Linked DNA regions of Homo sapiens. The protein of the gene in region 2 interacts with the protein of the main gene of each other region in a biochemical or structural test. Each region holds a gene or a part of one and is shown on either strand. Other genes may lie near its edges.

The links.
Region 1: the proteins of SELPLG (region 2) and MSN form a complex in vitro, tested with the Homo sapiens proteins (one study listed by BioGRID).
Region 3: the proteins of SELPLG (region 2) and SNX20 interact in a test that uses a peptide from one of them, tested with the Homo sapiens proteins (one study listed by IntAct).

What each region holds. Positions count from the first base shown.
Region 1 is NC_000023.11:65,726,512-65,730,261, forward strand, and holds part of MSN (moesin), read left to right. Parts: intron 1-1,302; coding exon 1,303-1,398; intron 1,399-2,926; coding exon 2,927-3,201; intron 3,202-3,750. UniProt on the Homo sapiens protein: Ezrin-radixin-moesin (ERM) family protein that connects the actin cytoskeleton to the plasma membrane and thereby regulates the structure and function of specific domains of the cell cortex.
Region 2 is NC_000012.12:108,627,208-108,630,957, forward strand, and holds part of SELPLG (P-selectin glycoprotein ligand 1 isoform 2 precursor), read right to left. Parts: intron 1,543-3,750; exon of another isoform or gene 1,439-1,542; intron 1-1,438. UniProt on the Homo sapiens protein: A SLe(x)-type proteoglycan, which through high affinity, calcium-dependent interactions with E-, P- and L-selectins, mediates rapid rolling of leukocytes over vascular surfaces during the initial steps in inflammation.
Region 3 is NC_000016.10:50,679,460-50,683,209, forward strand, and holds the start of SNX20 (sorting nexin-20), read right to left. Parts: upstream 1,854-3,750; 5' UTR 1,731-1,853; intron 1-1,730.

The DNA.
Region 1 (3,750 bases), on a different chromosome or scaffold from region 2:
TAGATTGTAAACTCTGGGTGTGACTGTGGGGCCTGACTTTGGATGCATAATAGAAACTTTGTGGATACAGTGTTAGTGTGTGTATGTGTGTCTTTGTGAGTGAGTGTGTGTGTGCATGTGTGTGTGTGTATTTTGAAGGGAGATATTAATTTGTTCATAAGGGAAGGACATCAGCAAAACTGGGTCCTTGTTCCCTGCTTCCATCTCCAGGTATATTTCTATGATTCTTTCTCACCTTACCCTTACCCTCCACTTGCATCCTTCTCCCAAAAAACAAAATAAAAAAGACTGCCTAAGGCCAGCCTGACCTCATTAGGATGTGGCTCAGCTTCACTGCTGCCATCGACAGTGGTGGGTATGCTGGGGTTGAGCTGAGGGCCAGACTATTAACATGCTAATGTCAGGGACTAGAGAACAGAGCTCATCTGTGTTCTCTTGGCAAGCCTCCTTTTCCTGCCCACTGTTCAGCCAGGAGGCTCAGGACAACAGGGGGCACCTCAGCTGCTACACTGAGGTACTTACCCTATTTCTACCCTCATTTCCACCCTAAACCTGTGTAAGAGGAATCATGACTTGGCTCTGATCAGGGTTGGAAAAAATCCTCTCAGAACCCAGGCACAGCATGGCTTCAGAGTCCTTCACAATCCCCGTTTTATCTTCTCAAACATTCTTTATTTGGGGTATTGTAAATGGAACTCAGTCTTAAGGGTGTGGGTATTACCCCCAGTTGCTAAGGATGAAGGACAATATATGGGAGTGGCCCAAGAGAACAAGATACAGGAGTTAATCCAACAATCTCCACCTTCAGCCTTTAATCCATCATGGAAGTGGGAAGTGGTGTGACATTGTAGAGGGAAGGAGGAGGTGGCAGAAATCACTGGATATGCATGGATTTGGAGTCAAACAGACCTGGTTTGAACCCTAATTCTGTCACTCACAACCTGAAACTTGGGCAAGTTATTTCATTTATTTGAACCTCATTTTTGATATCTATAAAATGGGCCTAATTGTAAGTCTAGCATAGGGGTATTATGAAAATTAAAGGAGATGATGGATGTAAGGTTCTTGGTATGTGTCAGTGCTCATAAGTAATAGATCCCTTTCCTGCCTCAGCAGTACTTTGTGCAGAGAGATGCCGACATCAGTTCTTGATTGCTGCTCAAGTATATTTTCTTGCCAGATGCTGAGCACCTTAAACCCTTTAAGGGCAGATATAATATTGACTTCAAACTTTGTGTCCTCTGTGCCTCACACAGAGGAAGTATTCAATCAATGGTTGGTTGTTTTGGTTTTCTCTTCTAGGTGGTGAAAACTATTGGCTTGAGGGAAGTTTGGTTCTTTGGTCTGCAGTACCAGGACACTAAAGGTTTCTCCACCTGGCTGAAACTCAATAAGAAGGTAACTGCTTATTCCTCTGTTGGATTTAGAATTCTTTTCTTTTCCAGAACATTCCTGGGAGGGTACCATGTGCTAGTTGGCAAATCCTGGATACCTAGGGCTGTGTTTGTGACTGGGTGGTCTGTTGACCACTTGGATCAGAATAAGGACCGAGGACACAAGCAAGGCAAAGCTCTTGCTCTGTCTCTACTTTGACTTCTAACAGCGACAATGGCCAGCATTCAAAGAAGAAGAGACTCTTTTCTTTCTAATGGGAACACTAGCTTGAACTTTGACTTGTTTTGGATCAAATCCATTAGTGGCTTTTCAAGAGAGGATTGGTATCCCCTTCATCTCTCCAAACTCAATGGCTTTAGGGGATTTGTGTTTTTTTTGTTTGTTTGTTTTTGTTTTGTTTTGTTTTTGACGGAGTCTCGCACTCTCGCCCAGGCTGGAGTGCAGTGGTGCCATCTCGGCTCACTGCAAGCTCCGCCTCCTGGGTTCACGCCATTCTCCTGCTTCAGCCTCTCGAGTAGCTGGGATTACAGGTGCCTGCCACCACGCCCGGCTAATTTTTTGTATTTTTAGTAGAGACGGGGTTTCACCGTTTTAGCCAGGATGGTCTCGATCTCCTGACCTTGTGATCCGCCCGCCTCGGCCTCCCAAAGTGCTGGGATTACAGGCATGAGCTACTGAGCTTGGCTGGGGATTTGTTAAAAAGAGCCACAGATTCTTGAACTAGAAAAAAAAAAATCTGAAAGATCTTACAGTCTTATGCTGCACCTTCTCCAGCAGTCAACTAATGTCTGAACCCCATATAGATGTTTCCCTCTTTCTTGATCTTTTACCTCAGTTGGACCCCAAATGGGATGGTTTGAGTCCATGCAAGCTCTCCACCCCAAGCAGCATCTTCACGGGAACCTGGCAGCCTTCCATCTTCGTATCCTCAAACTGGCTGGCCTTGTCCTTAGAAGTCTCCATACTGTCCTGCAGTTTGCTTCTCTGATTGTGTCTAGGGAGTAGGTACCCCACCTTCTGCTGGTAGAGTCTTGTTTTCCTAAAGAGTTGAGTCTTTTGCTGGACAAGTGTGGAGCCACTAGTATTCCATTTCAGGCTTTAAAAAATGGTCTAATTTGTGCTCTTGTTTAGCCAGTTCTCAGTCCTCAGACATATATCCTAGTCCTTACTTTGCTAATTTATGAAGTTGGAGGAGACTTATAAGACGAGCTTAAAAGAAGAGCTTATGCCTACTATCAGAATTTGGGGATAGTTGGATATAGTCAGATAAAAGTGGTTTGAAGATTTCTGATCATCAGTCGGTATTAAGGTAATTTCAGGAAGAAATTCCCAACAGAAAGTGATTACAGACATGGGATTCAGTCCCCAGTGAAAGTAATGTATTATTTTTCTTAATTACCAGGGGAGTTGCCACCCAGCTGTCTAAGATTATGCAAATTGATGATCTTTCAGTGTTTTCTCCCCACCCTACAGCCACTCCATTACCCTTAAAACCTATTTTTTGAGAGTCCATAACCCTTACTCTTCCCAGGTGACTGCCCAGGATGTGCGGAAGGAAAGCCCCCTGCTCTTTAAGTTCCGTGCCAAGTTCTACCCTGAGGATGTGTCCGAGGAATTGATTCAGGACATCACTCAGCGCCTGTTCTTTCTGCAAGTGAAAGAGGGCATTCTCAATGATGATATTTACTGCCCGCCTGAGACCGCTGTGCTGCTGGCCTCGTATGCTGTCCAGTCTAAGTATGGCGACTTCAATAAGGAAGTGCATAAGTCTGGCTACCTGGCCGGAGACAAGTTGCTCCCGCAGAGGTGAGGTGGTTCCCTGCCCTCCTTTGCCTTGGCCATAAGGGGCTGCAGCCCACAGCTGACCAATCCCTGCCTCACAGGGATGCCAGATCTGTTCTTCTCCATTGGGGTCTGTCTGAAGACTGTGTTATGCTGCTCAAGAGACATTTGCATATAGTGTCAGACTCTGTTGTTGTTTTTCTGGCTTTCCAAATAAAAAGCCTTTTTGTTTTCCCTCTGTCTACCTGGTTACAGAACTTTATTACCCTGGAGGCAGGTGCTTATATAGAACCAGAGATTGAGTAATTTCTTTCACCCATCCCTGGTTCCATTTTCTCAGTTCTTTTTACTGATTTAGATCTCTTATATCAGAAGTTCACAGGGGAGAGAGAGAAATAAGCAAACCGAGGACATGGGGAGCTCAAATAGTCTTTTAATATTGACAGCTAGTGTACAGAGCTTTCCCCTTTTGTAAACTTCAAAGTCAAAAGCTCTAAAACACTCATTATTTTTGTTTTTGTATCACAATAACACACAAAATGAACAAAGCAGGCAATATCCTTATTTCCTGGC
Region 2 (3,750 bases):
AAGAGAAGTGAAGTGACTTGCCCAAAGACACACAGCTGGTGAGAGGTCAAGATCAGACTGAAACCCAGTGAGGTTCAGGAAGGCATGAGGCCGTCAGGAGACACCTGACCTAGTTGAGGAGACAGAAGGCTGGGCTTGTGGACTTGGGTGGGAGAGGGAGGGCAGAGTAAGAAAAAGGAGGAGCTTGAAAGTTATGTCCCCCAGAAAGGCCTGCCACATATTTACCGGGTGCCATGCAGGGCATAGGGTTGAAAGCATAGATGTGGGGTCAGACAAAAAGGATGTTCAAGTCCTAGCTCTGTCCCTTACAAGCTGTATGACCTTGACACAGATGCTTGCCTCCCTGAGCTTCAGTTTTCCCATCTGTAAAATTGGGATAAGAAACAGTGCCCATCTCACAGGGCTGTTGAGACAGTGCAACAAGGGGATAGATTCAAAAGTTCCAGGCTGGTGGGCATGGTGGCTCATGCCTGTAATCCCAGGACTTTGGGAAGCCAAGGCAGGCAGATCACTTGAGCCCATGAGTTCAAGACCAGCCCGGGCAACATAGTGAGATCCCCATCTCGACACAAATAGAAAAATTAGGCCAGTCACGGTGGCTCACTCCTGTAATCCGAGGACTTTGGGAGGCCAAGGCAGGTGGATTGCTTGAGCTCAGGAGTTCCAGACCAGCCTGGGCAACATGGTGAAGCCCTGTCTCTCGTCTCTACAAAATACAAAAAATTAGCCAGGAGTGGTGGTGTGCCCCTGTAGTCCCAGCTACTCAGGAGGCGGAGATGGGAGAATTGCTTGAGCCTGGAGAGATTGAGGCTGCAGTGAGCTGTGATCATGCCACTGCACCCCAGCCTGGGTGACAAAGCAAGACCCTGCCTCAAAAATAAAATAAAAAAATTTTAAATAGAAAAATTAGCCAGGCATGATGATGCACACCTATCGTCTCAGCTACTGGGGAGGCTAATGTGGGAGGATCGCTTAAGCCTGGAAGGTTGAGACTGCAGTGAGCCGAGATTGTACCACTGCACTCCAGCCTGGGCGACAGAGTGAGACCCTGTCTCAAAACAAAACAAGAAAACAAAAGTTCCAAGCTTACAGTAGGTGCTTAATAAATGTAACACACACACACACACACACACACACACACACACACACACACACACTTTTGCCTCCCAATTTGCCTTCAGGGCAGCAGAATTTCTTTGGGGTAGAGTTCTTATCTGGGGGAAGAATCTACGGCCCAACCTTGGCCCCACTTTCCTGGAGGCAGGGACTTTAGGAAGAAGCCATTAGCCTAGAGACATATTTCATACTTATGAGCACACTCACAGCTACCAACCCCCACTTGGGCAGTTCTCTGTTCCTGGAAGGCAAAGCCCTCAGCCACTTCCTGGAAGCAGAGAAGGTGGGGGCAAAGTTGCAAGGCCTGGTCTCCCTGGTTCCCGGGTTGGGGGAGGCATCTTGGTGAGTCAGGGCCGGACTTGCAGCAGGCCGGAGGCTGGGAGAATAACACAGAAACACGGAGGGTGCTGGGGCCCAGTTCTTCAGGTAGGCTGTCACTGTTGCCCACCCTTCCCCTACAGCCATCCCCACAGCCTCCTGCACCCAGAGACAGCTGGGGTGGAGGAGAGGCTGGGGCCTGAATCCCACATTTGCCCCCACTTAGCGGCTGTGTAAACTCGGGCAGGTTGCTTCACCCTCTCTAAGCCTCAGTTTCCTCATTGTAAAACCGGCAATATTGCTTAAAAAAAATCATCATGAGAATTGAATGAGTGTATGGAAGTTCCCAGACGCTGGCTTCCAGCCGGGGGTACTTTATCTGGAGGACTCTCTTCGGCGCTGCAGGCAGATGAGCAGAGGAAATGGAGGTCTCAGACTCAGAGGGTATGGAGATGGCGGCCTCTCTACCTCCCCTGTGGGTGTTTGGGCTTTGAGAAAGCAGAGACCTCCGTACCTGTTATGATAAGACCTGGTACATTCGGAAAGCCCAGACCTCCTTTCCTGGGCCCGTCTAAAGCAACCACCTTATCCTACATGTTCCTGGTGTCAGTGCTGAAAGTCCCTCAACCCCAGAAACCCCTCACTCCCAGGCAAACTGGGGGTGGGGGGTTGTTGGTCACCCCAGCCTGGTCCCTGCCATCCCACTGGCTTTAAGACACAGCAGCCTGGAGCCAGGCCACAGCTGAGCAGGCATCAGCCCATCTAACAGAAAGAAAATCTGAGGCTCAGCCAGGCACGGTGCCTCGAGCTTGTACTCCTAGCACTTTGGGAGGCCAAGGCAGGAGGATGACTTGAAGGCAGGGGTTCAAGACCAGCCTGGGCAACATACTGAGACCCATATCTACAAAAAAATTAAAAATTAGCCAGGTATGCTGGTGATGCCTGTAGTCCCAGCTACTCGGGAGGCTGAGGCCAGAGGATGGCTTGAGCCCAGGTCAAGGCTGCAGTGAGCTATGATCGCACCACTGCACTCCAGCCTGGGTGACAGAGTAAGACCCTGTCTCTAAGAAAAAAACATATTTTTTTTAATGAAAGAAAAGAAAACCCGAGGCTCTGAGAGATCTTGTCTCAGCTGAGGCCACACAGGTAGAAGGGGGAGGAGCTGAGTTTTCTCACCGTGTATGGCAGGTAGCATAATACCTCCTTAATATTTGCTACAGTAAATGTATTATACAACAATAAAAATGACATATGTGGAAGCCCCTCCCACGGAGGGATGATTTCATCCTCTCACTATCTGGTGACCTCATTCCTCCTCACCCCTGTGTTCACTGGCTCTAACGGTGCCATCACACTGATTAGCAAGCAAGGCCCGGAGCGGCGGGATCACTCCCAGGCCCCACCTTCCACCTCTCCTCTTCCTGGAAGGCCAAAAAACAGTCCCACAGAAGTGGGGCCAGGGCAGGGCTCCGACAGAGGCGTCTCCAGTGACCACGTCCTATTTGTCTCAACACTTGCCTAACAGAGTAGGTCAGAGACTGCTCGTTTGCCTCTTTCGCCCTAAAACCAGGCTGCTTCTGGCCCAGGCCCCATCTAGACCCCATATGGGCCCCATCTAGGCTGTGTGGAGGAGCAGGCTGCAGGGGGCCCAGACTCCAGCTCCAGAGAACCCGCCGTGTGGCCGCCCTGAGCTGCTCAGGAAAGATCCTCGTGGGGCTCCACGCCGCTAGGAACCTTGCACTGAGAATCCTGAAACTGGTGGTCAGAGCGGGCAGGATCTTGGAATGCTAAAATTCAAAAGACTGAGCATCTCAGGGTTTGGGTCAAGTAGTCACCAAGAGAAGGAAAGACCCCAGATAACTGAGGCACAGGCAGCAGATCTAAGTCTGGGTAGACAGGACAGGCCCTGCCCTGCCCTGCTGTGCCCTGGGAGTCACATCAAACCAGGTCAATCCCCAGCTCTGTCCCTTAGAAGCTGTGTGACCTGGGGCAACTCACCTCACCTCTCTGAGCTGTGGGTTCCTTAGCTGGAATACAAGGACAATGGTAGCACCCGCTTTTTATGGGGTTGTTGTGGGTTGAAGAGGGCCAGGGAAATGCTGAGTCCTCCCAGAAGCCTTTCCAGATTGCCCCAGGCACGATTAGTCACCTCCCGTGTTTAAATCATTTCTGCTGTTCATTTATTTTCTAAAAATGTATTCACATTGACTCCTAAACTTCCAGAAGGCAGGAACCACAGCTGTCTTGCTGATCAGGCCACAGGCCCAGGATTCAGCCGATGGGCAGGCACACACCCCTCGCAACACTCGCCCCAGT
Region 3 (3,750 bases), on a different chromosome or scaffold from region 2:
GCGGCCCTCAGGGACCCTCGATCCAACCTCACCTTTTACAGATGGGCAAACAGAGGCACGGAGCAGGGGCCTGGCTGGCCCAGGGCTGCACGTTCTTGAGCATGCCGTCACGGGCACCTCTCGCTTGTCTCTTGTGCCTGTCAGGGAGTCAGGAGACATCGCCTTCCATCCTGACCAACCGTGTGTCCTTAAGCAAGTGCTTTAATATCTCTAGGCTTCAGTTTCCCTACCTGATAAATGTGGCTACAAGCCCCGTCCTGTTGATAAGATGATGGATGACTAGGGGTGGGTTCCCTACATTCTGACTGGTGCCTAAGTGAGACAGTGGATGGTTTACGTGATTCTTGGTGGCTGGGATTCTTGGGGGCCCAGGGCACTCCTATGCTCAGCACTTCTGTAAAATGGGTGATGGCGAGTGGCCTTGGCCTCAGGGGCCCCAGCCTTTGCAGATCTGCTTTCATGACCAGGCAGCTGGCTCCAGGTCAGAAGCAGGGCACTATTGGCCCAGAGACCCTGTAAGACCCTAGAAATGATGCCTCGGCTTGACACTCCAGTAAAGACTGAGAAAGCTGATTATAAAACCAGGCCTTAGAATAAAATCAAATTCAGCAGCCACAGTCAGCTCCCTTATGGTTGTCTCTTACAGGTTTCATTGGGAGTCACCCATTTAAAGAGGAGGGGGAAGGAAAGAGTTGTGCACTGGTGTATCCATGGGGCCTTGGGTAGCTTCCCATCCCTCTCCAGGCCTCAGTTTCCTCATCTGTGAAATGGGAAAGCAATCCTGTCACTCTAAAAGCTCTCTGGGGATAGCCACATAGACGGTTCCATGGCCCTTTCCTTCCCTCTCCTCACCCTCTGTAGCAAAGATTTCTTGACTTTATAACAAAATACTAAAAGTGTTGTTGCTGTTGGCCTGGGGGCCTGTAGTTGGCCCAGGGGACAGAGCAGCTTCCCAGCCTCCTCTGCCTTCCAGCCGTGTGTGCACAGACAGTCATTCTCCTCCTCCTGTCCCCAGGTGTCCTAACCACCCCCTCTCCAAGAGCTGACTGCCAAGTCCAGTCCTTCTTCTGCTGGGCACACAGAGGCCACACTATCTTTCTGAGGGCCTGCGGAGGACTTTTCATGGGGGATGAGCCTCTAGGGGGTGAAATAAAGCACATGGCCCACGCTGGGAGACAGAGATCCCAGGATGTTGGATGTGTGGCTGCCTCTCTTGGGGAAAGGGTGGGTACCCTCCAACAACTGGACGCTCACCTGAGAAGCCTTGCCAAAGCCAGGGGCTCCCAACCCAGTGTGTGTAAGAATCCCCTGGTGGGGTGGGGGTGGGATCCCAGGGGCTTGTCCAAGAGCAGGTTTCCTGGCTGCTAACATAGGAAGGTGCCATTGAACAGGCCTGGATTCTGCATTTTCCATGAGTCCTCTAAGGCTGTGCTGAGGCAGGGGTTCCCTGACACTGTTCTTTTGAGAAACACAGGTGTGGTGACTTATTCTCCAGGCCCAAGATGGGTTGTACAAGCGCCTAGCATTTCAAAAGGAATGGAGGTGATGGAAGGTCCAGGAGCTGTCCCTTCCTCTGCCTCAGTGTGCTAAGGAGAGCTCCAGACACAGTGGCTGTCACTAACTCTTCCCCCTCCCACCCTGCCCCCAGCAGGTGCCAGGCAGGGCCCCAGGAGAAGGGGACTCAGGCCACAGCAGGCAGAGGACAGCTGAGCTTGGGATCAAATACTGACCTCCAGTCTCCAGGGCTGTGTGTGTCCAGGGGTCCGGGAGGAGTGTCATATGGCCCCTTCGAGCTCTTGGTTCTCAGCTCCGGCGACAAGCCGAGGGGCTGCCACTTTCTAAGTTCCCCGTTTGAAAACAGGAAACAGGCTGTGTGACCTGCTTCTGATCGCCCCAGCCCATTGGCTGGTGAAACATGGTATATTGAACTCAACTGCCAGCCTGCCAGCTGTACCCACCTCTTCTTCCGGGTAGCGCAGGGAAGGGCAAGGCGGTGTGGGGCCAGCCCTGTGGGATTTAGCTCAGCCTCACTTTCCCTGCCGCCTTGCAGAGGTCTGGCTGTCCTTCGAGTCCCCGTTGATCTCTGGAATTCAGGCATTAGCTCCCAGAGCCCTTTAACATTCATTATTCTACTCTATGAGCTAGGCATGATGGGGGCCGTCATGCCCCTTGAACAGATGGGAAAACCGAGGCTTGGATCACAGAGCTGGTGGGACACAGAGCCAGTGACTGACATAGAAGAGCAGTGGGGTAGAATTACAGTTCCATCTGGTGCCTTTTCTCTGAGCAAAGCTGTATCCATCACCACCAACAGAAAGTCCCAGGGAAGCGAAACCCCAGGGCAGTGTGGTGTGATTCATGCCCACCCATCTTTGTGGCCTTGAAGGCAAGAAACAGAAATCAGACAAAAAAAAAAAAAATAGAACTTTGCTGGCTCGCCCAGAAGTTTGCCATGTGTTTTTTTTTGAGCCATGATTCCCTTCCTCCCTATTAGAGGCAGTCACAGTCCTGATTCAGATGGGGGTTACTTCTTGGCTTTTCCTTAGAAATTTACCACCTATGAGATCCCCAAACAATTCAGTTTCATTTTACTCATCTGTGAATCTTATATAAATTGAACCATGCATACTGTGTGTATTCTCCAGTGCCTTGCTTCTTTCATGCAACATTTATGGGTATAAGATTCACTGATGCATTTCTGTGTAGATACTTTTTTTCATTTCCATTGTTGTGTTGCTACATTATTATTATTATTTATTTTACTTTAAGTTCTGGGATACCAGTGTAGAACCTGCAGGTTTGTTACATAGGTATATATGTGCCGTGGTGGTTTGCTGTACCTATCAACCCATCATCTAGGTTTTAAGCCCTGCATGCATTAGGTATTTGTCTTAATGCTCTCCTTCCCCCTGGCCCCCACCCCTGACAGGCCCCAGCGTGTGATGTTCCCCTCCCTGTGTCCATGTGTTCTCACTGTTCAACTCCCACTTATGAGTGAGAACATGCTGTGTTTGGTTTTCTGTTGCTTCATTATTTAAATACATCACCATTTGTCATTTTTTGTTTTGTCTTTTGATGCACACTTGGGTTGTTCCTAGGGTGGCCATCATGATCAATGCCACTGATGATATTCTTACACATTTATCCAAGTCCATGTACTTATCTGAGGTGAAATTGCTGGGTCTCAGAGTATAGATAGCTTCAACTGTGCTAGATTACGCCAAATATTTTCCACAGTGGCTGTGCCATTTTGTATTCCCACCAGCAGTATATGAGAATTCCAGGTGCTCCACCTTCTTACCTGCACTTGATATGGTCATTATTATAATTATTTTAAAGATGGGGTCTTGCTCTATCACCCAGGCTGGAGTGCAATGGTACCATCATAGCTGACTGCAACCTAGAACTCCTGGGCTCAAATGATCCTCCCACCTCAGCCTCCTGAGTGGCTAAGACTACAGTTACGTCACCATGCTTGGCTAATAAATTTTTTTTGTTTCTGGAGGGATAGACCATCATGGCCACTATGTTGCCCAGGCTGGTCTTGAACTCCTGGCCCCAAGCAATCCTCCTGCCTTGGGCTCCCAAAGTACTGAGATTACCAATGTGAGCCACTGTGTCTGGTTTGGTCAGTGTTTTTCAGTGTACCACTGCATTAATGTGCAGTGGTCTCTCATCAAGGTTTTAAGTTGCATTTCCCTAAGGACTAATGATGTTGAGCATCTTTTCATGGGCTTATTTGCCATCCTT